Linked DNA regions of Homo sapiens: all the other regions are reported to be linked to region 4. Evidence: microRNA targets listed by miRTarBase, many of them from high-throughput screens and not tested one by one. Region 4 holds a microRNA gene; each other region holds the end of a gene's coding sequence.

What was found. Region 4 holds the annotated microRNA hsa-miR-3180-5p (CUUCCAGACGCUCCGCCCCACGUCG, at 1,186-1,210, shown strand). A microRNA usually pairs through its seed, bases 2 to 8, with sites in the 3' UTR of a target mRNA and lowers its output. Matches are read on the target gene's strand: a 7mer-m8 pairs with bases 2 to 8, a 7mer-A1 pairs with bases 2 to 7 and ends in A, and an 8mer does both.
Region 1: miRTarBase lists RBM18 as a target of hsa-miR-3180-5p. The part of its 3' UTR that is shown has no 7-base or 8-base seed match.
Region 2: the mRNA of NPAT is a reported target of hsa-miR-3180-5p. Seed matches in the 3' UTR shown: 7mer-m8 at 928-934 and 7mer-m8 at 1,153-1,159.
Region 3: the mRNA of ZNF660 is a reported target of hsa-miR-3180-5p. Seed matches in the 3' UTR shown: 7mer-m8 at 1,421-1,427, 7mer-A1 at 2,151-2,157 and 8mer at 3,506-3,513.
Region 5: miRTarBase lists GPR63 as a target of hsa-miR-3180-5p. Seed matches in the 3' UTR shown: 7mer-m8 at 978-984 and 7mer-A1 at 1,786-1,792.
Region 6: miRTarBase lists ZBTB25 as a target of hsa-miR-3180-5p. Seed matches in the 3' UTR shown: 7mer-m8 at 3,215-3,221.
Region 7: miRTarBase lists S100A7A as a target of hsa-miR-3180-5p. Seed matches in the 3' UTR shown: 7mer-m8 at 3,041-3,047 and 8mer at 3,962-3,969.

What each region holds. Positions count from the first base shown.
Region 1 is chr9:122,238,633-122,242,700 of GRCh38, forward strand. It overlaps RBM18 (RNA binding motif protein 18), which reads right to left. Exons shown (of 6, transcript NM_033117.4): 6 at 1-3,411. The coding sequence ends at 3,252. Among named protein-coding and RNA genes, the nearest start is that of LHX6, 12 kb to the left of the region's middle.
Region 2 is chr11:108,155,430-108,159,497 of GRCh38, reverse strand. It overlaps NPAT (nuclear protein, coactivator of histone transcription), which reads left to right. Exons shown (of 18, transcript NM_002519.3): 18 at 479-2,283. The coding sequence ends at 556. Among named protein-coding and RNA genes, the nearest start is that of ACAT1, 36 kb to the right of the region's middle.
Region 3 is chr3:44,594,576-44,598,643 of GRCh38, forward strand. It overlaps ZNF660 (zinc finger protein 660), which reads left to right. Exons shown (of 3, transcript NM_173658.4): 3 at 1-4,068. The coding sequence ends at 614. The region is part of intron 2 of ZNF660-ZNF197 (ZNF660-ZNF197 readthrough); the gene reads left to right. All of the region lies in intron 2 of ZKSCAN7-AS1 (ZKSCAN7 ZNF cluster antisense RNA 1), which reads right to left. Among named protein-coding and RNA genes, the nearest start is that of ZNF660-ZNF197, 12 kb to the left of the region's middle.
Region 4 is chr16:18,399,372-18,403,439 of GRCh38, reverse strand. It overlaps MIR3180-3 (microRNA 3180-3), which reads left to right and starts at 1,169; the gene lies at 1,169-1,262. It overlaps LOC112268172 (a long non-coding RNA gene), which reads right to left and starts at 3,461. Exons shown (of 3, transcript XR_002957900.2): 1 at 3,259-3,461. It also overlaps the pseudogene PKD1P5-LOC105376752 and the pseudogene PKD1P5.
Region 5 is chr6:96,794,997-96,799,063 of GRCh38, reverse strand. GPR63 (G protein-coupled receptor 63) reads left to right here. Exons shown (of 2, transcript NM_030784.4): 2 at 1-4,067. The coding sequence ends at 592. Among named protein-coding and RNA genes, the nearest start is that of GPR63, 40 kb to the left of the region's middle.
Region 6 is chr14:64,483,630-64,487,697 of GRCh38, reverse strand. ZBTB25 (zinc finger and BTB domain containing 25) reads left to right here. Exons shown (of 3, transcript NM_006977.5): 3 at 1-4,068. The coding sequence ends at 775. Among named protein-coding and RNA genes, the nearest start is that of ZBTB25, 18 kb to the left of the region's middle.
Region 7 is chr1:153,418,580-153,422,647 of GRCh38, forward strand. It overlaps S100A7A (S100 calcium binding protein A7A), which reads left to right. Exons shown (of 3, transcript NM_176823.4): 3 at 566-4,068. The coding sequence ends at 730. It also overlaps a transcript of S100A8 not described here. Among named protein-coding and RNA genes, the nearest start is that of S100A7A, 4.1 kb to the left of the region's middle.

The DNA of each region.
Region 1 (4,068 bases), not on the chromosome of region 4:
TATAGGGTCAGACACGTAGTGAAGGACAGGTCATTAGGGCCTTACAGATCTTTCAATTTTTTCTAGGCTGTGATGGAAAGCCACAAAGAAGAGAATCACATTTTAAAATAATTTTTTTAAAAATTGCTTTGGCTACTGTGTGGAAAACGGACCCTAAAGAATCAATAGCAGAGGCAGGGAGATAATTAGGAAGGTATTGTAATAGTCCAGGGAAGAGATGATGGTGGCTTTAAGAAAAATGGTGGTAGTGTTGGAGGTGGTGAGATGGCTGGATTCAAGAGGCATTTGGAAGGTAGAGTTGACAGGATTTGTTGAAGAACTAGATAGGAGCTGGAGAGAAAAAGAGAAAACAGGGATAAGCATGCTGGGACTAAATCATATTTTAGGAACAAATGATTACATATAGGAAATGTTTGACATTTAATTTATAAGGCAAGAATTACTCCTGTTCTTTTATGTAGTAGTATAAAAGAATCACAGATATATTTGTTGATTCAGAAACTGTGCATATCTTAATAAACAAGAGACAGAGCTGCAGAATACCTGGTTTCATACAACTTGTGCAACTGATTTTTGACCTGTTTTGTTTTTGTTTTTTTTGAGACGGTGTCTCACTCTGTTGCCCAGGCTGGAGTGCAGTGGCACAATCTCGGCTCACTGGAACCTCTACCTCCTGGGTTCAAGCGATTCTTGTGCCTCAGCTGACATGCTTTGAAAAATCTTTCCTCATGTGATACTCCTCCCCAGTACTAAGATACCAATTATAGAAAATCAACTGGTTAGGATTACATTTTGCATTTGATAAAATAGGAATTGAGATGAAGAAAATAGTTCATACGTCTCTCCTCAGTATTTCCTTCAATTCTTCACTCTTGTATATAAATCAAAATTATAAGTGACATAATTTTAGCAAACCAAAATAACCAGTAAACCAAAGAATAATTTTACTTAAAGTACAGACAACCTCCTAACAAAGAGTTGACCAAGTTAACACCTGAAATTTAAAAACCTTTCATCAGACTGCTTTCAGCATATTTAGGATACATACATTTCTTCTTTTGAAATCTCTACCACGAGAGACTAAACACAGTACGATACTTGCAGAGATTTCCATTAACAACTTCTTTTCAAATAGTGACATTTGCAATGGAAACAGCTGGTCTCTATTCTCATCTCTAACAACAGAGGTAGGCAGGCATAAAGGGTAAAGAGAGTTGCCTCTCAGTTTGACTCTCTAGCCAGAACCCTCTGCAGAGAAGGCACTTAGAAGAAGCACCCCACGTGGACATGCTGGCCAGAGTCCTGAGTGGAAACAAGCCTGTCAGAGAACTGCAGTCTATGCCAGTAAGTGAACGAGAGAAGATATAACCACACGGACACCGTCTTACATTTATTCACACAGAGGGATAAGAATCAGTACAAATAATAAACAGTGCTTTAAATACAAATAAATAGCTCTGGTTTCTAAAGGAAACAACTCTATATATAATTCTAAGTTTTTTCTAAGTTCCTATTAAAAATAGAAGACTATTTTGCACTATGTAAGTTCTAGTCCACCATAATCCTTTGAAGACTTACGGATAAAATGGTGAATTCTATACTCCAAGAAGTCACCAGAAAAATGGGAGATAATGCTCCTACCTCTCTGAACTATCCCCCAAATAGGAGGAGAGTTACTTGCATCATAGACAGACACAGCTAATACATACAGAAAGTATTTGATGTCTAGAGATATTTAAAAAGATTAACCTTGGGAAAAGTAAAAAGAATTTCCTTAAACCAGTTTTATGAATTCTAAAACCTCCCTCTACTGAAGTTTTGATTCAAATGTCTTAAATTCATTTATACTCATGGGAAGATGTTAAGTTCCTATATTGAAAGCTTCCTCTTGCTAACAACGATAGTGATAAACATTCTGTCATCACCAAGAATGGCACCTGGAGTAACAAAGTGATACATACCTGGTAAAGGAGCAAAGGTGCTGCCCAATTAAACAGTATGTCAAACTTGGCATCAAAATGACCAAAATGTGCTGAAGAAACACATCCCTAAATCTGTTGGTTGACTTATCTTTCTCTATTGTTATATTCAGGATGCTTAGAGTGACAAACATATCTAGAGGCAAGTATGTTCTCCAAGTGAAGAATCATTTCCAAGGCATGCAGTCCTTTAAAACTACCTACCACACAGAGTCATTACAGTCTTGGTGCCACAGTGGCATCTGTTCCATTGACTTTCTGTGCCCACTGCATGTCCTCTCCTCGTCCTGCACAAGATAATGCAATCTCTTCCACTTAGACCGCTACACAATTATTAGAAAATTGTATGTTTGATAGTGACCAATATAGCAATGTTTAGGTTTTCAAAGAAATTTTGCTTTTTCTATTTAGACTGACCATGATATAATTCCAAACAGAACATTCTCATGCTATAAAAACAATCCCATGCAATAAATGTAATTTTAAAAGTCCCATGATAATAGCAACATTTGTTATTATAGAAGGCATGGTTATTTAGATTTGAAAAAAATGGTTGCTATAGAATAAAAGTTCAATTTCCAAATAGAACTTGTGTTGTGGTATAAAATGTTAAATTTGATTCTAGTTTTGTCAACACAAACAATTTTAAGATATACACCATGTTTTCCTAGTTGGGATTTTGAAACAATAAGCATAATTCTTAAACAGATTACTACAACATTTGTTCAAAGAATCAGCTCCTTTTTGCCAAGAACTTTCTCTTTTTCAGTCCAGTTGGAGGGATTGCCGTAGTAAATTCTGGAACAACAGTTCTGAACATGATTTAAAATCTGTCTCTCACTTCCCTCCCTGCCTTTTACTTTTTCTTTATGTTGTAAAAGACACACGAGCGTAGAAAAATGCTCAATTTTTTAATAGATGTTAATATTTTTAGTTTCCTGATTTAAATAATATTTTGTGTATTTGCCTTTTGCTCTGGCACACTATAGAATGTTTCTGGAGTTACAAATCCAAACCAACCAGCCAATTAGAGCATCCCAGGGTTCAAATCACAATTTGGGATACAACGCTATTTATTCTGGATGATGCTCAATTCCATACATAGTTTAGGGAAGAAACATCCATAAGAACATCCAAAAACATTATGTTACCAAATGCTAACATGTGATTGTGCTCCGTTGAATAGTACCATTCACATCTACAAAGTACACAGGCAGACGATTTTAGGTGTGGAGACCAATTTGCTTTTGCTGCTACAGTAATTCACAACCATCATCTTCGAGATTTCCATGCTGTTCTAGAATATGGAGTAGTCCTTTTTTTATCTGGTGGCTTAAAGTAGGAATAAACAGGCGCTGCTGGATACTCTGCATCAGGATTTTCCGCCATCATTTTCAGTTTTGCTTCAATGGCTTTTATCTTTGCAGTGACACTGGAAAAATAATAGCAGAGGATCAGAGTGGGCCTAGGTATATTCAGAAAATAGCTGTACAGTTCCTCTCCTTGAGCCTCTTGGGAATATTAGAGACGCAACAAGATACTAAATTACAGACATTTAAACATTTTATATAAAAGCCAGAAATAACTAATTCTCTCATTCTAAGAAACAGATCAAGTCTGAGCCATCTATTAAGTTTTTAACATAAGCCTGGACATTGTTGGGAGTACTTCATATAGTTCTACATTTAATCCTCAGACGCAGACACTGTTAGCACCTTAATGCTTGGCAGAGAGTAGGTACTAAAAATAATTCTTTTAGAATTGAAAACAACATTATAAGATAGGTTATATTCCTTATTTTGCAGATGATGTAACTGAGGCACAGAAAGGTTCATTTGCCCAATGTTACACAGCAAGTAAACGATAGAGCAGAGATTTGAATACAAACTGACTCAAAAGCCCAGGTTTCACCTGAATCACTGAATAAAAATGGAAAAAAAACATTCTGGAAATCCTATACAATCTCTTTTTACTGATGAATGCATGTTAATAAAAACTATCATTTACAAAGTGCTTACAATGAGCCAGGCACAGTGCATTTTACTTATACTGTTTTTTTTTTTTTAGACAGGGTCTTGTTCTGCCACCA
Region 2 (4,068 bases), not on the chromosome of region 4:
CATGGTTAAGTCTGTAGCCTTTCTGAGTCTCAGCCTCATCACTTGACATGATATTACCAGGTATCTTAGGTTGTGAAGTCTAAATGTAGTATACATAAAGTATCTAGTGTATATTAAGTTTTGGAACTGATAAGTACCTGTAACCCTAAACATCTGTTAGTAAAGCTTTCTAAGCAGTAATAACCACCTAACATAGAAAGCATGTTCTATCTTGTCTCATTCAACATTCAGACACTCTGGATTTGTATCATGTCTTTTGCCATAAACTAACATTCAGGTGCCATTGAAGTATATTTAAGTAACTTTGGGTTTATAAAACTTGTCTCTACTTCTCTATAGAAGTAAAATTCTAATAGACTAAAAAAGTTTGACAATTTTAGTAGTATGTGAAAGAACCCAATATACTGTTTTAGGTGACTTACTAAGAAAGCATTTTGGCCTTGTTTTGAGTTTATTTTTTCTTTCTCTTTTTCAACAGAAAAAGAAGCTTCCCAGTTCATTTCCAGCAGGAATGGATGTAGACAAATTTTTGTTATCATTGCATTATGATGAGTAAACATTCTGGACACATAAGAACAGTAGGTGTTAAAAACTCATATCCCTTAAACTGAGTGTAGGGAATGGGATATTGACAGAATCTGAAAGCATGACCTGCACTTTCATTGTACTGAAACTTCACTTTATATCTAAATCATGCTGTTTCTGAAACAGCTTCCTAGTTTGTAAATAGACTTACTTGGTATATTTTTATTTTGGGAAAAACGTTTGCAGAAATGTAAGTAAAGCCAATCTGCAAAACTGTATAGCTTTGACAATTCCATATTGTAAATACTGTGTAAATCTTGTTGAAATAGAGGTTAAATCAACCTAATGTTCTTACACTGTGTTTTTTGACTTCTTATGATCCCTAATTCTGAGACTTACTCATCTGGAATAGTTTCTCACTTGTTTTGGAGGAAAATGATGCTTATTCTTATAAATTACCTTCAGTAACTATTCAATAAGACATTTAAATACACAATCACTAAGTACTACAAAATAATAACCACCTCAACTGATAGCAAAATATCTAATTAGAAATCAACAGTTTGATGAGTTTTTTTCCTAGAGTGAATACTACCCCTTTCTTATAATTGCTGTAAGTATTATATTTCTGGAATTTCACACTTTACCTACTCTGATCACTCTGTTCTCTTTGTTTTAAAGAGAGAATTTTGTAAACCATTTATTGAATGTTCTGATCTTTCATTTATAACTTAAGATTTTTTACAGAACTTTAAGTGGTTAGACTATTGAGCCATAAAATTTTGGTTTGTAGTAGAGATTTCTCGGTATGTACTTTTCCCCTAAATGCTGGGGATTTAAAGAATTGCACTAATTCATAGAACTCTTTACATTGTAGTGACCAATGCACATATAATTTAAATCTTGTGTTCTATGTGAGAGTTTATGTGGAGGATTATCTTCTGGTGTTGTGTCCATCATAAGATGTAAAAAGAGAAATCATAGTTTTATATTTTAGTTTCTCCTACAATGGGTATGTTAAATAACTATATCTATACTTAGATATAGTGCATTGTCTGTGTCCCTTAAAGTGTTACAAAGAGTTTCTCTCAAAAGGTCCTTAAGGAGAGTGAGAGATGAGAGAGGTGCCTTCTCTGTATTAGACTCACACACATCAGTCCAGTTGAAGAATTGGTTTAAACTTTTAAATGAGAACAGAAATTATAATTAGTACCTGACCAATTGTGCCTAGATATTAAAGTATGTTCTCTTTAGTACTTTCCGTTCAATTAAATATCAGTATATTAGGGATTTTTTTCTACAGGTGTATATTTTGTTGAAGAGTCACTTTCCTCAACCATTTTTTTGTACTGGGCCTTTAAAAAAATAAATCCATCCAACTTTAACACAACATTTCTCAGTGTAGAAATCATGTCTTCTTAATTGCTGAACCTTACTGCAAAAACTTGTGATGTAAGAAATTTGTATGGTGTGGCAGTGGTCTATTCCTAAGGAACTAAATATCATATAGTTAATGTTTATTTAACTCAGCTTGAGACTGTACTACAGTTAGGTTTGAATAAATATTTTCATTAACTTCAAAAGTTTGAATTACTTTACATTGGCAGTCTTGTTTAGAAACTGATTAAATTCCTTTGCAAGTCAGTTCTTTTTGGGAGTTTGTACAATGCTGAAAATCACAGTTTTCTTCTTATTCAATTCATAGTTGTATGTACTAAGCACTGAAAATTCATATACAAATAAAATAAGTTTACTTTCTTCAAGATTCATAGTTAACTAACCAGGAACTGCTAAGTAAAGTTGAAAGATAACTTGTACTTGGAGCTTTTATGTTCAAGAGCAAAATCATATCCCCATTTTACCTTAAAAGTCCACAGGTCCTGAACTTAATTATACTATTGTACCTGGTAACCTATTTGAATACTTAAATGCCCAGTGACTGCATTTCAGGGTTGATGTATACTACAACAATCCATGGCTGTTTTTATAATTACATATGAGGATCCAGTCTGTTGTTTGGATATTACTTAGAGGTTAATGCAGTCAGTGTATGCCAAATCTGAGAAGTGTTGTTAAGTAAAATCTTGTTACAGATTTAGCCCTGGATATATTAGAACTATAGTGTGTTGAAATTGCGCATAAGAAAAGCATCCATCAGCATTCATGCAAAGGCTACATGTCATGACTATTAGGAGTAATTTCAAAAGCATATTACTATATATTCTGCATTCATCCTTTCTCTGGTCATCATCTTTTAGGCTCAGGCCCAGCTTTCTGAAATTACATAAGTTTTGACTTTATTATTAGTTATTTTGCTGCTTCCTTTAAGCAATGGACTCATTGTGTACTTTTTTCTTTTTATAAATGTTATCATTTTGTCATACTTTTGTCTTTTTTTCGTAAATTTGTATCTACATTGTTGAACACATGGTACATATAGCTTCCTAATGCTTTTTGTTTTGTTTTTTTTTTTTTTTTTTGAGAGAGGGTCTCACTCTGTTGCAGGCTGAAGTACAGTGGCACAATCATGGCTCACTGCAGCCTCGATCTCCCAGGCTCAAGTGATCCTCCTACCTCAGCCTCCCGAGTAGCTGGGACCACAGACATATCCCATCGCACCCAGTTTTTTGGGTTTTTTTGGTTTTTTTGTTTTTTGTTTTTTGTTTTTGTCTTTCAGAGAGATGGGGTCTCACTATGTTGCCCAGGATGATATCAAACTCTTGGACTCAAGCAGTCCTCCTGCCTCGGCCTCCCAGGTGTTGGGATTACAGGCATGTGAGCCACCTCATCCAGCTGCTGCTTTTACTTCCAATAATATAAAGCTTTTTCCTTTTTTTAGCTATTACAAACAAAAACAGCAGTGAGCATTTTTATAAACATTTGTTTATGTTAACTATTTCCTTAGAAATTTTAGAGAGTAGAATTACCAAATCAAGAAGTTAGTGTACCTTTTTTTAAGGATCTCAGTACATTTTGCCATATGCTGCTATTAAACTTGCGTCAATTTACATTTCTACCAGCAAATTGTCATTTTTTTGCATAGCATATGCTTATCCATTTCCAGAGGCATATTCACCTATATCATCACCTGTTTCTAGGTTTGTGTTTCCTGATTTGGTAAAATTAGGAGTTAGCTCCTAATCCATTTGTTACTTGTTTTGGTACCTGATATGAAAAAAGGGTCAATGTACATTTTTTCCCTAAATATTTAACTGCTTGACAATTTGTTCACTTGACAATTTAACCACTGCACAGTTTGTTCAGATAAGCTTTCCTTTCCCCTGCTCATTTATTTAAGATGTCTGTCTTATCCTACACTGATTAACAATCTCTTATTCACAATTCTAAAACCCAAAAGGTTCCGGCAACCAATTTTTTTCCCCTAGATTTAACATCAGAACTCATTCTGTGGCAAACCTGACCTGAAATGACACGAGGCTACTTAACAGTCTTTATCTCATTTATAGTAATGTTGATTAGTCTGCTGTTCCAGACTCAACTGGGGGGCATATGGTGCATACATTTGAGTTATTTTTTAGAAAT
Region 3 (4,068 bases), not on the chromosome of region 4:
ACAGTGGGGAGAAAACTTATGAATGTAAAGAGTGTGGGAAAGCCTTTAGTCGGAGTTCGGGCCTTATATCACATCACAGAGTTCACACCGGAGAGAAGCCCTATTCTTGTATTGAGTGTGGGAAAGCCTTTAGCCGTAGTTCAAACCTTACTCAACATCAGCGAATGCACAGAGGAAAAAAAGTTTACAAATGTAAGGAGTGTGGGAAAACATGTGGTTCTAATACAAAGATTATGGACCATCAGAGAATTCACACTGGAGAGAAGCCTTATGAATGTGATGAGTGTGGAAAAACTTTCATCTTAAGGAAAACTCTTAATGAACACCAGAGACTTCATCGTAGAGAGAAACCTTACAAATGTAATGAGTGTGGGAAGGCTTTTACTTCTAATCGAAACCTTGTTGATCATCAGAGAGTTCACACTGGAGAGAAACCCTATAAATGTAATGAATGTGGGAAAACCTTCAGGCAGACTTCTCAAGTTATTCTACACTTGAGAACCCACACTAAGGAGAAACCCTATAAATGTAGTGAGTGTGGGAAAGCCTATCGGTATAGTTCACAGCTTATTCAACACCAGAGGAAACATAATGAGGAGAAAGAAACCTCATAAATAACAAATATTGTGGGTAGTAGGGCTGACTGCTGCTTTTCTAAAAAGTAGTTCTTTAGTATCAACTTTAATTCTACTTCTAAGAATCATACTCTACTTCTAAGAAAATAATTAGAAGTAGACAAAGATTAATGAAAGGGATGTTCATGACAGCATCATATACGACTGAAAGAAGAAAACTAGATTTTCAACATTACAGGGTTGAAATGAATGATGAGCTATCCATATGATGGTTCTGCAGCCATTGCAAACATTTTTAAAGACAATTTAATGCCATGGGGAAATGATTGGATAAGACGGAAGATAATGACATACAATCCAAAATTTAAAAAAATATTTTTGCATAGGAAAAATTGAGAAGGAAGTAAACCAAAATGTTAACAGTGATCATCTCTGGGCGATAGGATTATAGGTGATTTCTATTTTCTTCTGTATACTTTTCTATGCTTTCTAGATTATCTACATGAGAATATACTAATTTTATATGCAAGAAAAAAAGCACAGTATTTTTTAAATGCAATGAAGACGTGCTTATTTTCACTCAGCAGTGTTATGAAAGGCACGTAGTATATAGAGCCCAAAGCCCTGGGATTGCACCCTGACACTGGCATTTAGCAGCAGTGGAACCGCGAGCAAGTCCCTTCCTTTTAGAGCGTGTTTCCTGTTAAGTAAAATCATAAACACCGATCCTTTGTCCTTTTTAGTTTTAAGACAAGCTGACTTTAGAGTTGTCAACAAAATATATAATAACACTGTTAGGTTAAAAGAACACAGCAAAAATTCACTGAACCCTCCTTTCCCACAGTTCTGGAAGGATCTGCAGATGATGGAGAACTACCTAGGCTTCATCTTTTCAACATATGTCTACACAACCAGAAAAAAATGAAATTGAAACAACTGTAGACTCAAAAACTTCAGATACAGTCACCAGTTAATATAAAACTAGTGGGAGACTCTGCCTTCACATGGTATATAGAGTTTAAAGGCTAAAAGTACAAACTTTGGGGTTGGAGATATCCATGTTCTAACCCCAGTTCTACCATGAACTAGCTTGTCAGTTTTGGACAAGTCACTTAACTGCTCTGAGCCTCAGACCTGTGTGTAAAAAAGGAACAATTACCTACCTTACAAGGTTGTTGTGAGGATTAAGTGAGTAATGCATGAAATATATGATAAGCCAGACACGTGGTAAATGATAAAATCTTAAGTATAGGACATTGTAGCAGTGTTTCTAAACACTTTAGGGAGAGTGATTAAAGAGAATTTTTGTGTAAGGTAGTACTTAGGATATTTTCAGATGTATTGAACAGAATACCAAGTACTAGCAGCCTAGACCTTAAGAACATTGATTGATTGCTTAAGGGGAATCTAGAGGTAAGCAGTGCTATGTTTGGTTTGGCAACTCAGCACTTCATCACACTTCTCTCTTAACTCCATAATTTTCAGCATGTTGACTTTCATTTTTCATAACCTCATGGTGGCAAGACAGTGGCCACAGCTGCATCTTGCCTTCACACAACTCCTTCAGATTGGGAACTGGAAAAGGAGCTGAGGCTTTCTCATCTGGTTTCTTCCTTTTGTCACTGAGAAAAATCTTTCCCTGAAGAAGGGACGGAGAGGTGTTGAGCAATCAATACAACAGATGTTTTCTATCTTCCTCTGCCTTTCTTTATGACCAGTCCTCCTTGAAGGTCTTAGCCCATCTTCCACCAATATTTAAAACATTTTAAGTGCTTAGCTCAAAGTCACTCTGAAACACTTAGAATCTCCCTATTTTTAACTCAGCCATTCCTCTGTGTATACAGTGAATCCCTAAGCCCACTGTTATCTGTCTTATGCACATAGTGAATTAGTGTTTGGGGAATTTTTGATAATATGTTATTTAGTTCTCCCTCTATTATACAAGAAAATTGAGTGTCATTGAGGTTAGGTGACTGGCTAGTAAGTTGTCGGAGCCAGGATTTGAGCTCAGATCTGACTTTGAAATTCATGCTTTCTTCATTATACCAAAGTGCCTCTGCCCACCATGGTGGTTCTGTATGTGAGTGGAAGACCAGTTGGCGTTTTCCCAGGTAGCTGCCTCTATGAAAGGTGATTGTATCTAACAATTATTTGATATTTGACCATGGTTTTATAGGGAAGATGTTATCAGTGTTCTGTGAATGGGGTTTATGGCCTATCTCTGTACCTCATAATTTAGTTTTAAGGTATATATATTTCTTTCTTGCTGTTACCGGAAAGAAAGAAGTGAAGGGTGAAGGTTGTATATTTGTGTGAAAAAAAATTACTGATTTTGTCCTATTTTGATAGGATAGTGGTTTGCACATAATTTGTGATATAATAGTCCTTTGCATGGTCATTCCAAGCAGGGTTTGGAAGGCCTGGAACAGATTTGTAGCATTCATGGACAAGCCTGGTCTATCATTCCTGAGCAGAATTGTTGATGCTTTATATATTGCTGAGCAGATATTCTCTGACCAAAACATTTTTTCACCACCATGTCATAGTGCCTAAAACTCTTTATTTAGATAGGCTTTCTTTTTTGTCTTAGAAGACTATGATCTTCAAGAGTATATCTCAAGGAAGGATATGATGCCATCTCATAACCAGAGAACTGAATATAGGAGAGCTTCATATTTCTTGCCCCAGGCAGGCGAGGATTATAGTCTCTTGAGGAGGCCATCACCCATCTTCTAGGCTAATACCTGCCTTGAGCTGTAGGAATAAACACTTGACAGTGGGTTCCTGCATCCTTTCAGATAAACATTCAGCTATAATTTGAACTGATCACCCACCTTTCTCCGGGAGTCTCCCAGGGTTACCAACTTTTACCTCAGTCAGAGTTTAGGCATGCAGCTCTTACCATCCTTTCAAGCCCTTTCATAATACCCTCTGGAAACCAGGAACTGTCTCTTTTAATGTGCTTTCTTTTTCTTTCTTTTCTTTTCTTTTCTTTTTTTTTTTTTTTTGAGATGGAATCTCGCACTGTCGCCCATGCTGGAGTGCAGTGGCGTGATCTCAGCTCTCAGCTCACCGCAACCTCCAGCTCCCAGGTTCAAGCAATTCTCCTGCCTCAGCCTCCTGAGTAGCTGAGATTACAGGCACCTGCCACCACACCCAGCTAATTTTTGTATTTTTAATAGAGATAGGGTTTCACCATGTTGGCCAGGCTGATCTCGAACTCCTGACCTCACAAGATCCACCTGCCTCGGCCTCCCAAAGTGCTGGGATTATAGGCATGAGCCACTGCACCTGGCTTTATTTATATGTGTATTTATTTATTTATTTATTTATGAGATGGAGTGTTGCTCTTGTCGCCCAGGCTGGAGTGCAATGGCGTGATATCGGCTCACTGCAACCTCTGCCTCCTGGGTTCAAGCGATTCTCCTGTCTCAGCCTCCCAAGTAGCTGGGATTACAGGTACCTGCCACCACACCTGGCTAATTTTTTGTAT
Region 4 (4,068 bases):
TTGGTGGAGCACATGTGGTAGGATTTTTTTTGTTTTTTTGAGACGGAGTCTCACTGTATTGCCCAGTCTGGAGTGCAGTGGTGCAATCTCGGCTCACTGCAACCTCTGCCTCCCAGGTTCAAGCTATTCTCCTGTCTCAGCCTCCCTAGTAGCTGGGACTACAGGCACCTGCCACCACGCCTGGCTAATTTTTGTATTTTTAGTAGAAATGGGATTTCACCTTGTTGGTCAGGTTGGTCTCAAACTCCTGACCTCAGGTGATCCACCCACCTCGGCCTCCCAAAGTGCTGGGATTACAGGCATGAGCCACCACTCCCAGCCAGTTCTTTTTTTCTTTTTTCCATTTTTTTTTTTTCGAGACAGGGTCTTACTCTGTTGCCCAGGCTGGAGTGCAGTGGCACAATCACGGCTCAGCGCAGCCACTGCCTCCTGGGCTCACACGCTCCTCCGGCCTCAGCCTCTCGAGTACCTGGGACTACAAGTGTGAGCCAGTTTGGCTAATTTTGGCTAATTTTTGTAGAAACGGGGTCTCGCCATGTTGGCCAGGCTGGTCTCCAACTCCTGGGCTCAAGGGATCCACCTTCCTCCCCCTCTCAAAGTTCTGGGATTACCGGAGTGACCCACTGTGCCCTGCTGGCAAATTTCTTAAACTGTGCCTCAGTGACCTCATTTAATAAAGGGAATAATTGTAGCACACTTTTTCTAGAGCTGTGAAGATTCAATGGAATAAATAAGGCAATAAATGAATGGATGGGGAATGAAGGATGTGGGTTTCCTCCCTCTTGTCTTTCAATAAGCTCTCACCATCAACCTCCCATTGCCTGTTCTCTCTCTTCCCCCTCTCTCCCTCTGTCTCTCTCTTAGCCAGGAAACCTGGGGTAGGGAGGCTTGGAGCCAGCGGGTGCGTCGGGAGGCTGCGGGTACTGACTGGGGACGCGCACGGAGATTGCGGGAGAAGGATCCACGCCGCGGGAGAAGGATCCATGCCGCGGGAGAAGGATCAGAGTGGAGCCTGTGGCTGCTGCAGGAGGAGGAAGCCGCCGCCTGGCCCACACCACAGGAGAAGGGCGGAGCCAGATGGCACCCTGCCCACCGCTTCCCGCCCACGCACTTTAGCCTGCAGAGGGGCGGAGCGTGAAAAATACCTCGTGCGCCTCGGCCGACTCTACAGTGCGACGGGCGGAGCTTCCAGACGCTCCGCCCCACGTCGCATGCGCCCCGGGAAAGCGTGGGGCGGAGCTTCCGGAGGCCCCGCCCTGCTGCCGACCCTGTGGAGCGGAGGGTGAAGCCTCCGGATGCCAGTCCCTCATCGCTGGCCCGGTCGCGCTGTGGCGAAGGGGGCGGAGCCTGCACCCGCCCCGCCCCCCCTCGCCCCGTCCGCCCTGCGCCGCGCGGGGAGGAGGAGGAGGAGCCGCGGCGGGGCCCGCACTGCAGCGCCAACGTCCGAGCGGGCGGCCGAGCTCCCGGAGCGGCCTGGCCCCGAGCCCCGAGCGGGCGTCGCTCAGCAGCAGGTCGCGGCCGCAGCCCCATCCAGCCCCGCGCCCGCCATGCCGTCCGCCGGCCCCGCCTGAGCCGCGGCCTCCGCGCGCGGGCGGGCCTGGGGACGGCGGGGCCATGCGCGCGCTGCCCTAACGATGCCGCCCGCCGCGCCCGCCCGCCTGGCGCTGGCCCTGGGCCTGGGCCTGTGGCTCGGGGCGCTGGCGGGGGGCCCCGGGCGCGGCTGCGGGCCTTGCGAGCCCCCCTGCCTCTGCGGCCTAGCGCCCGGCGCCGCCTGCCGCGTCAACTGCTCGGGCCGCGGGCCGCGGGCTGCGGACGCTCGGTCCCGCGCTGCGCATCCCCGCGGACGCCACAGCGCTGTGAGTAGCGGGCCCAGCGGCACCCGGGAGAGGCCGCGGGACGGGCGGGCGTGGGCGCGTTCCCTGGCCCGGGACGGGAAGCAGGACGCGGGCCAGGACGCTCCCAGGGCGAGGCTCCGGCGCGGCACAGCGGCCCTGCTAAATAAGGAACGCCTGGAGCCGCGGTTGGCACGGCCCCGGGGAGCCGAAAAACCCCGGGTCTGGAGACAGACGTCCCACCCGGGGGCTCTGCGGACGCCAGCGGGGGCGGGGCGCGGAGGCCGCGCTCAGCTGGGAGGACAAACAGTCGCTAATTGGAGAGGAATTGGGATTCGGCCTGGGGCTGCGGGGTACCCGGAGAGATGGGGATGGCTGTAGGGGGCTGCAGGGAAGAGTTCCAGGAGGTGTCTGGACAAGGATTTGATGGATGTGCAAGAATTGGGCTGATGCTTAGGAAGGGGCGATGAGGTGGGTCCAGAAGAAGGGGGGTGAACGGTGTGAGCAAAGACCGTGAGGCTGGAGGCTGGCCACGGGAGGTGTGAGGGGTAGGGGCAGGGTGGGAGGTGGGCTCGCGGGTGGGCTGGGGTCATGAAGGGCCTCAGGCGCTCTGCTATTGGGTTCCAAGGCTATCCTGAGAACAGGGGTGAGGGCGGATTGCCGTGGGGGGTTAAAGCCTTGTCATGTTCGCTTTCGGGAGATAAAAACAACAGGTGGCCTTTATGGAGACGCTGCCCAGAGCCAGGTCTGTGCCAGGCTCCTGTTGGGGGTCGTCATGCGGAATCCTGACTCTGACCATCCGAGGCATAGGGACCGTGGAGATTTGCATTTCACAGATGAGGAAACAGGTTTGGAGAGGTGACACGACCTGTCCCAGGCATCACAGCCAGGACAGGACCTGTCCCAGGCATCACAGCCGGGATGTGCATAGCAGGGGTTTGGAACTATGAGGTGCCCAGGACCCAGGGTTGGATTGAAAAGGGCGCAGGGGACTAAGATAAGCAGACAGTTGTCCCCAGCGCTGGGGAGAGTCTTGGTACCAGTCTGATGCCTTGTATTTCCCAGGCTCCAGGCTCCTCGCCGGGACAGTGTCTCTTTGGGTGCGTGCTGGATCCCTGGGGGACGTGGCACATCCCCAGGCTTTCTAAACATTGGATGGGTTCTGGCATTTGGTTTTGTAACGTTTCTGGGTCACTCCCGCCTGTGGCCACCCTTCCTTAGGGGAGCCGTGTGTCCTTGGGGCTTTGCTGGGTGGTCTCGAGGGTGGGAGAAGAATGGGTTCTCCTGGACCAATGGAGCCCGTGCCCCTCGGGGCCACATTGCTCCTGCGCTCCCTGACTGCGGACGCGTGTGTCTCGCGGCTGTCTCTGTGGAGATGGCCTCCTCCTGCCTGGCAACAGCACCCACAGAATTGCATCAGACCTACCCCACCCGTTGTTTGTGATGCTGTAGCTGAGGGCTCCTCTGTCTGCCAGGCCGGTCACTGGGGACTCTGTCCAGGTCCTGGTGGTTCCTGCTTCCCAGCACCTGATGGTGTCCATGAGAGCAGCCCCTCGGGAGCTGTCCGGGAGAGAAGGGCGCTGGTGGCTGCTGAGCGGAGAGCAAGGCCCGTGTTCTCCAGGCCCTTGGCACAGCAGTGGAACCCCCGCCCCTGCCTTGTGTTGTCCTCTTAGGCTCTGGTCCTGGGGTTTGGAGGAGGGGGACCCTGGGGGTTGGTGGCCTGTCCCAGCCTGAGCTGGCAAGATTCCGAATGCCAGGCCCCTCAAGTGTGCAACAGGGCACAGGGTGACCTCGTGGGCAGGTGGGTGCTGTTCTGTACACACCTGGGGCCGCCGCTGGGAGAGTTCTGGAAGGTGGGGTGAGGGGACCCATGGGAAACTAGGGCCCTAGGAAGGATGTGAAGGCCCTGGCTGGCCCCCCAGGCCACCCTCTGTGCTGTGGGGCAGCCCAGCCATTTTGCTGTCTACCCTGCAAACTCCTCCTCGGGGAGACGGCTGGGTTTTCCCCAGGGAAGAGGGGTCAAGCTGGGAGAGGTGAAGGACACAGATCACAGCTGCTGGCAGGTGTTCAAGGGTCCAGGAGCGTTGCTGTCTGGGTGTCACCAGTAGCCTTCCTGGGGGGCTCACGCAGGTGCCTCTCCACTTGTGGCTCCCTGGCTGCTGAAGCTCAGCAGGGACAGCTGTGTCCAGTTCCAGGTGGAGGACAGCCGGGGCTTCTGAGGCCACAGCCTGCCTTG
Region 5 (4,067 bases), not on the chromosome of region 4:
TTCCCGAGCTCCCCAGTGTGTGTTTGGGTACACAACCAATCCAGGCTACCAGGCTTATGTGATTTTGATTTCTCTCATTTCTTTCTTCATACCCTTCCTGGTAATACTGTACTCATTTATGGGCATACTCAACACCCTTCGGCACAATGCCTTGAGGATCCATAGCTACCCTGAAGGTATATGCCTCAGCCAGGCCAGCAAACTGGGTCTCATGAGTCTGCAGAGACCTTTCCAGATGAGCATTGACATGGGCTTTAAAACACGTGCCTTCACCACTATTTTGATTCTCTTTGCTGTCTTCATTGTCTGCTGGGCCCCATTCACCACTTACAGCCTTGTGGCAACATTCAGTAAGCACTTTTACTATCAGCACAACTTTTTTGAGATTAGCACCTGGCTACTGTGGCTCTGCTACCTCAAGTCTGCATTGAATCCGCTGATCTACTACTGGAGGATTAAGAAATTCCATGATGCTTGCCTGGACATGATGCCTAAGTCCTTCAAGTTTTTGCCGCAGCTCCCTGGTCACACAAAGCGACGGATACGTCCTAGTGCTGTCTATGTGTGTGGGGAACATCGGACGGTGGTGTGAATATTGGAACTGGCTGACATTTTGGGTGATGCTTGTTCTTTATTGACATTGAATTCTCTTTCTCATAGCCTCTCCACTTTATTTTTTTTTATAGGGTTTGTGTATGTATGTGTGTGAGCAGTGTAAAGAAAGAATGGTAATTATAGTTCTGTTACCAAGAATAAATAATAGGAAAGTGATTACAAATATTACCTCCAGGGTTCAATAGAAATCCTCAATTTAGGGTGAGGAGACTTTTTTTTGGTTTTGGGGTTTTTCCTTGATTGATTTTGTTTTCATAGTGGGAATCAGGATTGTGCTTTATTGAGCCTGCAGTTACATTGAATTGTAGGTGTTTCGTGTGCTGCTAAGGTATGCTTATTTGAGTTTATCAAGACTTTTTTTTTCTGGAAGACACTGCTGCTTTTACCATCACATTGGAGCCAAACATCTCAATCAATATATATTTAGTTTTATTTTAAAAACTAACCCAGGAAGGTTAGCGACATTTTAAGGGTCATTACTATTTACTTTGGTGCACTTTAAGAGATAATGTACAAATTAATTCAGTCTTATTTTTCAGAATTGTTTTTATACATGATATGTGCTTTAGGAAATGTGCATTATCATTTATGGGAAGATAGTTTTAAGAAATGTTTTATCTGCATGTACAGTTGTAAAAGAGAACATAAAATGTAGATACTTTTCTAAGCACAATAGCAACTCTTCAAGCAATAGCGCAAAATCTAGGAGACAGGATCCTTGCAAATTTAAAAGGTGAATGTAGTGAGGGGGATGGCAAGTGGCTGGTACAGGCTGTGGTGATTCCTTTTACTCAAGGGTTTTTGTGGAGTATAGGGAGAAGGGGTTGATATTTATGGACACCTATGTGTCAGGCACTGTGCATCATTTTATCCTTACAGGATGTTGTGAGGTAGGTATTATTGTTTTCATTTTTACAGGTGAAGAAAGCAGGTCTCAGAGGGACTAAAATCCTGCCCAAGGTTAGTGGTAGAGCTGGGATCCAAAAATCTGTCAGAATCCTGAGACTGCGCTGTTCCACTGTGCCACGCAGACAGTTCATTCAGTTTAGATGTCACATAGTCAAGAGGGAACTCTATGCATCCTTTAATTTTTTAGACTATGATATTCTTTTTAAAAATTAGCCTTTATTTTCTAACTACCAAAAGAAATATGAAAGCATTACAGAAACACTGGAAAATAGAAAAGAAAAAATAAAATCACTTACAACCACTTTTTGTTTTTTGGAGTCTCGCTTTGCCACCCAGGCTGGAGTGCAGTGGTGTGATCATGGCTCATTGTAGCCTCAACCTCCCAGGCTCAGGTAATCCTCCTGTCTCAGCCTCCTGAATAGCTGGAACCACACACACACACGCACACACAGGTGTGTGCCACCACACCCAGCTATTTTTTTGTATTTTCTTTTGTAAAGACAAGGTTTCACCATGTTGCCCAGGCTGGTCTCAGAGTCCTGAGCTCAAACGATCTGCCTGCCTTGGCCTCCCAAAATGTTGGGATTACAGGCATGAGCCACCACATCTGACCTACAACCACTTTTTAATGTGAGACTTAAAAATCTTAGATAAATAAGGCTGTGAAGCAAAACCAGTGATTTTTTTTTTTGTTTTTGATTTGCAAAACAAGTGACTGACAATTATTGAGAAATTAAAGATAGCTATGTGTAGGTCTTGCCCCTGCGGGTTTGGAGGTTTCCAGTTGTCCATCTGTGTTAGTTGTAAGTGTTCTGGGCAGAATAGTATTGTTGCCCCAATGCTTGCCCTAGCAGAGCTGGAGTTTGTGAACGTGCTCAGATGTGTGTCTCCTACAAAGAAGGGAAAATGAACCCTCGTCTGAGCCTAGAACAAGTTTTAATAGGGCATGTCTGACATTTCAAATTGTTTTTCTCTTGCTGACAGTCTGCCCCCAGGTGCATCTAGGGCCTTGGTCAGCTTCTCTGTTACCAGTGGCTCACTTTATAAAACAGCCCACAGGGATAAGGGCTGAAAATATAGCCACTTGGCTACATCATTGACTAATTAAGTAAGTTAACTGTGGATTTATAGCATCTTTTCAGGATGTTAGTGTTTTGTGAGCCAGTGGAAAAAATAAGCTTCTATTTCTTCATTTGTAAAACCAGAGAGTTGGATTAGATGAATCTCTAACGTCCTGTCCAGCTCAAATGTGCTTTCCTCTATACTAGGGTATAGATTTTTGAAGAGCCTAGCTGACTTCAGCATCACCTCACCCTTTGGTCTCCAGTATTACTTCTTTACATTTTACTTCATTAGCTATTTCTTAATATTAAATGTCTGAAGAGTGTGGCACTGTATCAGGAGTTGGGGCATTGAAAGGTTGAAGACATCATGAAATATCTGGGAAACTCTGCTCTTAAGGAAATTGCACCGATGTTGGAACTCATTGTCCAGTTAAAGAGCTCTTTGGGGACTCAAGCATATTATTCAACATGTTGTTTTGGGATTATCTTCAAATGATAGTCACCTACCTCTTTCATTTCTAATTTTTATTCACAGGTAAAATTGTTTTTGTCCATAGGGATTTTATAGGACATAAGCACTGTAGTAGATACTAGTAGCATTTTGAAGTGTATTATGCTCTCCATTTTCCATATAAACTAGATTTCAAGCAGATATTGATAAGGACATTTTTTATTAGACTTTTCTCTGAGGAAAGTCAGCATGATCTGTATTCATCTTACATATTGATAGGTCATGAAGACTCCTTTTTGGCTGGAGGTGAAACTGAGCTTTGTTTTCTTTGTTCCTGTTTTATGGGCAGTCTTTAGGTACTTTCATGCTGCTTAATAGGCAGTGCCTCATTTGGTGAGAGCTCTGGAGTGCCTGCCGAGACGCTCCCTGTTTGTGAACAAAGATTATGAAGGGGTCTTTGTGAGAATTCAGCAGCAACACTGAACAGCAGTTCTTTTTACACTGGATTATCTTGATCTGATGAGAGTTTACAAATCATTTTGAACATTTTTATTATGTATACATTGTGAAAGCTTTAAAAATAAGTACTATGGAGCACCTTTGAGAAACGTAGGTGCAAAATCATATGTTGCCTATTCCCCCATATTTTCTTGAGGCAGGGAAAGATACCACTACTAATTCTCACTGCTTACAGGCATAATCAGAAATGGTTTTTTGTTTGCCTGTTTTTCCTTCTGGCTAGTAAGAAGCGTAAAAGAGATAATGAAATATTTGTGGTCAAAAGAAAGATGCAAGGGAAATTCCAAATAGTATGGAGTAACATTATTTAAACTTTAATACATGTTTAAGCATCCCCAAGGGAGCTTGTTAACAGTACAGATTCCTGGGCCTCCAGAGGGTCTGTGGTTGAGCCCAGGAATGTGCATTTTTATTTTATTGAGCACTCTGCCTGACTCTGGCTCAGGTAGTCCCTGGGAAACTCTTCAGGAAACATTCCTGTAGAAAATATATCTATTTAAATATCATCT
Region 6 (4,068 bases), not on the chromosome of region 4:
TGGCACTGCAGACCAGCAGAGGGCCTGTCCTGCCACCCAGGCCCTGGAGGAGCACCAGAAGCCCCCAGTTTCCATCAAGCAGGAGAGATGTGACCCAGAATCTGTGATCTCCCAGAGCCACCCCTCACCCTCATCAGAGGTGACAGGCCCCACTTTTACTGAAAACAGTGTCAAAATACACTTATGCCATTACTGTGGGGAACGTTTTGATTCCCGTAGTAACCTAAGGCAACATCTCCATACACATGTGTCTGGATCCCTGCCATTCGGTGTCCCTGCTTCCATTCTGGAAAGTAATGACCTTGGTGAAGTGCATCCCCTTAATGAAAACAGCGAGGCCCTTGAATGCCGCAGGCTCAGCTCCTTCATTGTTAAGGAGAATGAACAGCAGCCAGACCACACCAACCGGGGTACCACAGAGCCTTTGCAGATCAGTCAAGTATCTTTGATCTCCAAAGACACAGAGCCAGTAGAATTAAACTGTAATTTTTCTTTTTCAAGGAAAAGAAAAATGAGCTGTACCATCTGTGGTCATAAATTCCCTCGAAAGAGCCAATTGTTGGAACACATGTATACACACAAAGGTAAATCTTACAGATATAACCGATGCCAAAGGTTTGGTAATGCATTGGCCCAGAGATTTCAGCCATACTGTGACAGCTGGTCTGATGTCTCCCTGAAAAGTTCTCGCTTGTCACAAGAACACTTAGACTTGCCTTGTGCCTTAGAGTCAGAGCTCACACAAGAAAATGTGGATACTATCCTAGTTGAGTAGCAGCTTCTCTTTCAGAATTTTTATACCAATTCTGAAAAAGAAAATTTGCGTGGCATTTTTAATTCATAAATTATTTTCCTCCTCAAGTTTCATTGACTTTTTTTCTTCACAGCTTATCCATGGTTTTAAGGTTGTATATATTAGATCTTCTCATAAGACATATTAATATGTGGCTATTAAAATGTAACATTCAATTACTACTGTGAACTTTTCACAAACGAAATAACAATTTAGAAATCAGAAATCAATGTAGAAATATGGAAACCTTAAATAGTTATTTATAGAATTCTAAGTTTTTCCAGTTATAGAATCAGTAAAATCAAATTGAATATAAAGTAAATGAAATCTGTTTTAAAGCATATTCTAAACTATCACTTCTGCCTACATTTCACATGAATTCACTCCTACCAGGATTATTTTTAAATATTTTCTTCCATATAGGAAATTAATAGTTACTTTAATGCATAACTGTATGTTATACATATGTTATAATGTATAAAAATTTATTTTAAGATATACCAAATCATGAGTAGTTTTATTTTTTAACTACTAGCTCCACAACATCTTACCTACATGGCTTCTCTTTACTTTTTAACATTGAGTATACCTCTTTTTTTTTTTGAGACAGAGTCTCTCTGTGTCGCCCAGGCTGGGGCGCAGTGGCGCGATCTCGGCTGACTGCAAGCTCCGCCTCCCGGGTTCACGCCATTCTCCTGCCTCAGCCTCCTGAGCAGCTGGGACTACAGGCGCCCGCCACCACGCCCAGCTAATTTTTTTGTATTTTTTTAGTAGAGACGGGGTTTCACCGTGTTAGCCAGGATGGTCTCGATCTCCTGACCTCGTCATCTGCCCGCCTTGGCCTCCCAAAGTGCTGGGATTACAGATGTGGTATATCTCATTTTTAATAAAAAAAACAGTTAAAGGGAGAAGAGTCAGAGAGACATTAAAAAATATTTAAGAAACAGTAAGATATACACACATAGATAAATAAGCATGCAGAGACAGAGACTGAGCTAGAACTGCATTGACTAAAAACCCCAGGGTTGTTAACTTGGTCTAGAGTGTTTTCTTAGACACCTTAAAAAGTAATTTGAGATTTTATGACCAGAGGTTTACATGAGTTGAAAGAGAATGATGATAAAATATAAATCATGTTTCTACCCTCAGCGTCAGGATTTTTGGGGCTTCCTGGGTTGATTTTAATTTTCTAAAAATCACTGAAAAAGTAATTTTTCAGTGGCACAGTTTTCACTTTTTTCCTGATCCATAAAACCAGCAAAGTGGATACATTCAGTGTTCTATAACTACATTTAAGATCCATGATGTTAGCTTTTCCTCTATAAATCAACTTAACTCTCTTTTATAATGGTGACACTTACAAAGCTAAAACCCCAGGAAAATTAAAGTTGATGAAAGAAATAACAGATTCCCCGGCTCTATATACCTGGGAAATAGCTGGTTAAGCTTCACCACAAAGGATAGATCTAAATTGTTTCTGAAATGTTTAAATTTCAAACCCCGCATAGTCAAGGATAATAAAACAGACTCATCTTTTTTTGCCCTCTTGTTAAATTCTAAGCTTCACGGGCATTTGAATACATCTAAAAAATTTGGTTTGTGAGCCTTAGAATTTAACCACTTACAAAACTCTTGAGCTCCCTCCACTTCTGAGGACGTTTCCTGACACATTCAACAGCATCAGCGTCCAATCAGGAGGGAGCTCAAAGAGTAATCCAGCTAATTCTAAGGACACAAAGGTTTTCTCTAGGTAAACAGTTTAGGTAAATTACAAAGTGGTAAGTTTTTCTTGAGGATTGAATGAAGAAAGCTACTGGATATTGTGTAAGGCAGTTGAGTTTCTGCCTTAAACAAGTGAGTAAAGGCTCCTATGGTTAAGACTGATGTGTGTTGAGAGCACATCTAACTTGATAAGATCAATTGTATTGGGAGTAATTAAAACAAATGTATGTTCTTTGGGGTCAGAACTTTGTCTAATCTTAAACTTTTTTCTACCAATTCACTTAAGCAACTATTGAAATTTGTACTGCCCTCAAAAATATCATCTCATTGGAAGAACACAAGTATTAACATTGATTTTTTGTATTTTAGGCTAGTTAAGATATATTTCCTAGCCTTCTTCAATTCAAATTCTATTGTTCTTATTAAGATAATTTTTCTCCTCTATATTCTTCCCTGTTTGCCTACTCATTATTATTATTTTTTTAATTTAATTTTTTTTTAAGATGGAGTTTCACCCTTGTTGCCCAGGCTGGAGTGCAATGGCGTGATCTCGGCTCACTGCAATCTCTGCTGCCTGGGTTCAAGCGATTCTCCTGCCTTAGCCTCCCAAGTAGCTTGGGATTACAGGCATGCACCACCATACCCAGCTAATTTTGTGTTTTTAGCAGAGACAGGGTTTCACCATCTTGGTCAGGCTGGTCTGGAACTCCTGACCTCAGGTCATGCACCAGCCTCGGCCTCCCATAGTGCTGGGATTACAGGTGTGAGCCACCGTGCCAGGCCCACTCATTATTCTTTGACACAGGAAATCCTTGTATATAGCTAAAGGGTGGAGGTAGAGTTGTACATGGTTGGTTGGATAAGACAGCAAGTGCCTCAGGGCAGAGTTTGGATAAATGGTAAGAGTTTGCTAGCAGCTGATTGGCCGTGATAGACAACACTCATTTAAAGCAGAAATATATCTGTTCGTTGAGAGTTAAGAAAATAGTGGTTAACTGTATTTCTATTCTTATAGTTCCTTTTAATATTAGAAATTCAAAGCAAATGCTCTTTCCTTGTTCCTTAAAACATTCATTCTGTTTAGGAAGTGGGAAAATATCAACTTCATTTTATAGAAAAAAAATCCCAAAAGCTGAATTCCAGAGATGCAGTGAATAGTGGTGTGGGACTGACCCCCAGTTTTTGTTATTGTTGTTTTCATTTATTCTGCAGGCTTTTTTTTTTTTTTTTTTTTTTTTTTTTGAGACAGTCGTGCTGTGTCGCCAGGCTGGAGTGCAGTGGTGCAATCTCAGCTCACTGCAACCTCCGCCTCTCGAATTCAAGTGATTCTCCTGCCTCAGCCTCCTGAGCATGTGCCACCATGCCCAGCTAATTTTTGTATTTTTAGTAGAGACAGGGTTTCACCATGTTGGCCAGGATGGTCTCGAGCTCCTGACCTCATGATCTGCCTGCCTCAGATTACAGGCATGAGCCACCGCGCCCGGGTCTGCAGGCATTTTTTAAAGTAACTGTCATATGCCTAACACTGTGCCCTGAGTATTATTTTTTAAAGA
Region 7 (4,068 bases), not on the chromosome of region 4:
TGGGAAAGCACTAGAAGTTCCATTGCTAGTAGAAATCAATAGCCCTCTTTGCAATAAAGAAAACTCATTGGCAAATCTGAAAAAACCTGTGGGCTACTAGGTACCAAAGGGTCTAGATGACCAAGAGTAGGGAACCCAGAAGATGAGTTTGGTGGAAAAGGAGAAGAAAGGAGAGGAGGTCAGAGAAAGAAGAGAACAAAGCATGAGGGCCAATTTTGAGGCCCTGGGGTAGAACTAAGGTAGGCAGTGCCCTTAAATGCTGGGAACAGGCAAGATTGAGGCTGGGGCAGGGGACTGCTCTCCCCAAGGTCACTTAACAGAGTGCCTCGGGACAGGACCTGCCTCCCATCCTGAGGTGTGAGACAAAAAGTCTCCTTAGAGAACTCCAGGGATAACACTCACGTCCTCACCCCAACTTCACCCACTCACCCTGTGCTCTCAGCCCCACGACCATGCCTGTGCAGATCTAGGTACTTGTCTGTATCTCTGCCTCCTCCTCTCCCCTCCCAGCCCAAAACTTGTTTGTGATTGAATTTTTCTATTTTGTATGTTTTTCTCTTCACAGGACAAAAAGGGCATACATTACCTCGCCACTGTCTTTGAGAAAAAGGACAAGAATGAGGATAAGAAGATTGATTTTTCTGAGTTTCTGTCCTTGCTGGGAGACATAGCCGCAGACTACCACAAGCAGAGCCATGGAGCGGCGCCCTGTTCTGGGGGAAGCCAGTGATCCAGCCCCACCAAGGGGCCTCCAGAGACCCCAGGAACAATAAGTGTCTCCTCCCACCAGACACTTGCCTTATTTCTTCTTCTCTTTGGTGACCTACATTGTCAAAACTACCAATTCCAGGTTAACTTTGTTGGAGAATTTCCCCCACCCCCATCCAGTGGGTCACCCAGGAGTAATGTCCCTCCAGCAACGTTCCCCCTATGGCCTCCAGCAGAGCTGATCTGCCTCTCACACAGGTCCTGGTGTCTGCCTCTGCACCGTTCCCTAAATGCAGCCACCTTGGCAGGTTCCAGGTGGAAGTTGGTAGAAGGCCCCTGCCAGGTCACAGCAATGCTCTCCTTGTCAAGGCATGGACCAGGGTCATTCAGACACATTCAGATACTGCACTGAGAAGGAGCTGGCATCTCTCAGTGTGCTCCTGCCCTCCCACTCCTGCCCCAGCTGTTCTCCAGGGCTTGGGGAAACAGAAACCACTCACATAGGGATTCCTGGATGGCTTCAGGTTCAGCGCCCTTGGGGCTATGAATGGGAGGCTCAGCAGTGCCCTGAGGATGGGCTTCCTTGTCCTGTGGCCTCTGCTCCAGGGGCAGTGTCCTTTCCCTGTGCTGTGTGCTTGTGTGCATGTGCCTATGTGGGTGACCCTGTGGAAGTGAGAAGGAGTCACTGTGATGCTTAGCTGTCCTAAATGATGGTTTGCTCAATGCCAGGACTGGGTTTCTGGTGATGAATGAATATTCCAGATTTTGAGGAGCTCTAAGTGGTCCAGGAGTCCAAGTAAGCAGTCTGGCTGGAATAAGGCAGCATCACGGAAATTCTGTAAGGACTGACACAGAGAGCTCATGCTGACTGTGATGAGAAATTGCAGCACCTCTATCTCGCAGGTAATGGAGTAGTTTGTTATTGGTAGTCTACTCCAGGCCAGGCAGTGTGTTATGGGCTGAGGATGCAGAAACAGGCAGGACACAGTGCTGTCCTAGCAGTGCACTGGCGGGTCTCTCCATGCAGGCCACAACACAGGGTCAGTGTTCACCTGGTGTCACTTCCAGGCAATGTTCTGTGCAGCCGCTCTTAGTATTCTTCCTTGAGGCTCACATCATGTGTCCCTATCACTCTTACTACTCTGGTCAGTCTCCAGCTAACCTCTCAATCAGGCAAACATTCTTCTTGGAGGAATCAGGCAAACATCTCAAAAATTCTCTTTCCATCCTACCAGCAGCAGTGTGTAAGATGGGCTATTTGTTCTTTGGAATGACTGCTCCACTCCACACTCACACCTCTATTCACAGACCAGCATCTCCTCTCCTTATCAGGAACATTCCTTCCTGAACATATTCTGCACCTCGTCAGCCTTCAGGACTGATCTGCCATTTTCACCTCTAAATCCCCATGTCTGACCATTAGTTTTCTTCTCTTTCCTTCTCTCCCTTTCTCATTCTCATTCCACCTGTTCTTGGAACTCACGGAGACCTACAGTCCCTGGGCTTTCATTTTCTCCTCCCAGCCCCCTGCTGCCTTCTCTATGCAGCCTGCCCTCCATCATCCACCCCAGAATTGCTCTCTTTCCTCTCTTAGCTCTGTTGCCCACTTTCCTTGGGCCATACCTTCCCTGCAGATCTCCAGCCCAGAACCATCTTCCCCTGTTGTCCTCCTCTCTCCTCCACCGGGACTGCTGGTCACTGCTTAGAACCGTCATGCCAGGGTCCCAAAAGTGTGGGTGCCTGACTTCCTCTCTGTGCAGCACTCTCTGAATCCCTCCTATTCACCTTGCTGCTGTTATTCCCCGAATGCGCAACATACCCCCCATCAATATATCTCAGTATTTCATGTCTCAATACCAATCTTTTAAACTACTGCCTCTACCAGAAATGTCTTTTAATACTTCTTCTGTCTCATTAACATTACATTTCAAGGCTGAGCTTTAATGTCAGTGTCTCTTAGACATTCAGAGGGTGAACCACCATCCCTTCACCCCAAAGAAATGATCTCTGCTTCATTTGTGCCTCCCTCACCATGACCCCACTCTTACCATAGTGGCTACATTACTTCAGATTCCCCTAATGTCTTTCCAGCCAGACTTGGAATCATGGAGGGAAAACATTGTTACCTCGGATCTCCTGGTTACCCAGCACATAGTAGTACTGGATTCCAGCTCATAATAAGTACTCTATATCATTTTTCAATATAAAATGTATTTGTGCAAATTCTAGTCAATACTACTTTATGTAAACAGCAGTGTAAAATCCAAAAACTTCCAGTCCTGGAGGCAGGTTGTGCAGCTTAGGGGAGGACCCCAGAATCTGGACCCCAGAGTCTGGAAGCAGGCCAGAAAGGATAAGGCAAATGACTGAACAGTTCCCTCAGGACTCACGTACTGATCTCCCAAAAGAAGAGAGGGTCTCCCTGGGGTGGGGTTGCTGGACCTTCAATCCATCGCTACAGTCCAGAAGGCAATTGGCCACTCCTAATGTGGGCCTGCCCTCCCTTTATTTTTCCAGTTCTTATTTCACCTGATAATATTCCGTCCAATTGGCAATGGCACATAAAAATTAGGATGGAGTGTGTGGACAAATACTTCTTCATCTTCTTGTCTAGGTTTTAGAAATCACCTTCTCAAGGGAGCCTTGTCTAATGTTCCTGAGACTATTTCACACTCTCCATGCTTATGTCAATGCAGGACTCATCACATCTATTCGGATATTCTGTTTACACACCCATGTCATCCCAGAGAGGTGATCACAGGGCAGGGACACATGTGTGGCATACAGTTCCTAGTTAAGATCCCAAATCCTGAGATATTGCTGATTTGCTATGGCAGGTCGTCAAGAGAACTGTGTCATTCCAAACTCACCAAGGTGGCTTATAGAACAGAAGCAGATGGATATGAAGAGGAGAGGGGACCAGACCATCTCCGCAACCACAGCCCAGAGCTCCAGTCACCAGATAGAAAATTGATTTGATTTCATCCAATATTCCTTCGAAAGAGTGTCAAGGAATAGGGTGGGGCAATGTGTCATTCTGCATTGGAAGGAGGACATTTTAGAGCAAGGCCTAAGGGCACAGGTATTAGTGTCATATTGATCAGAATTCAACCTTTGTTCTAACACATACTAGAGCAAGAATTTACTTGATTTGGAATAATTAATAGCTACTGGACATTATATTGGTACTAAAGAGAAAGAATACTTGACAGCTCTATGCCCACACTCACATTACAGCTGATGTGAAAGAGATTCTGGAAATCCAAATGTTCCCCAGAAATTCTGATATCAAAACATTCCAATAACTTTTTTTTTTCAGGCGCAGTCTCACTCTGTCGCCCGGGCTGGAGTGCTGTGAGC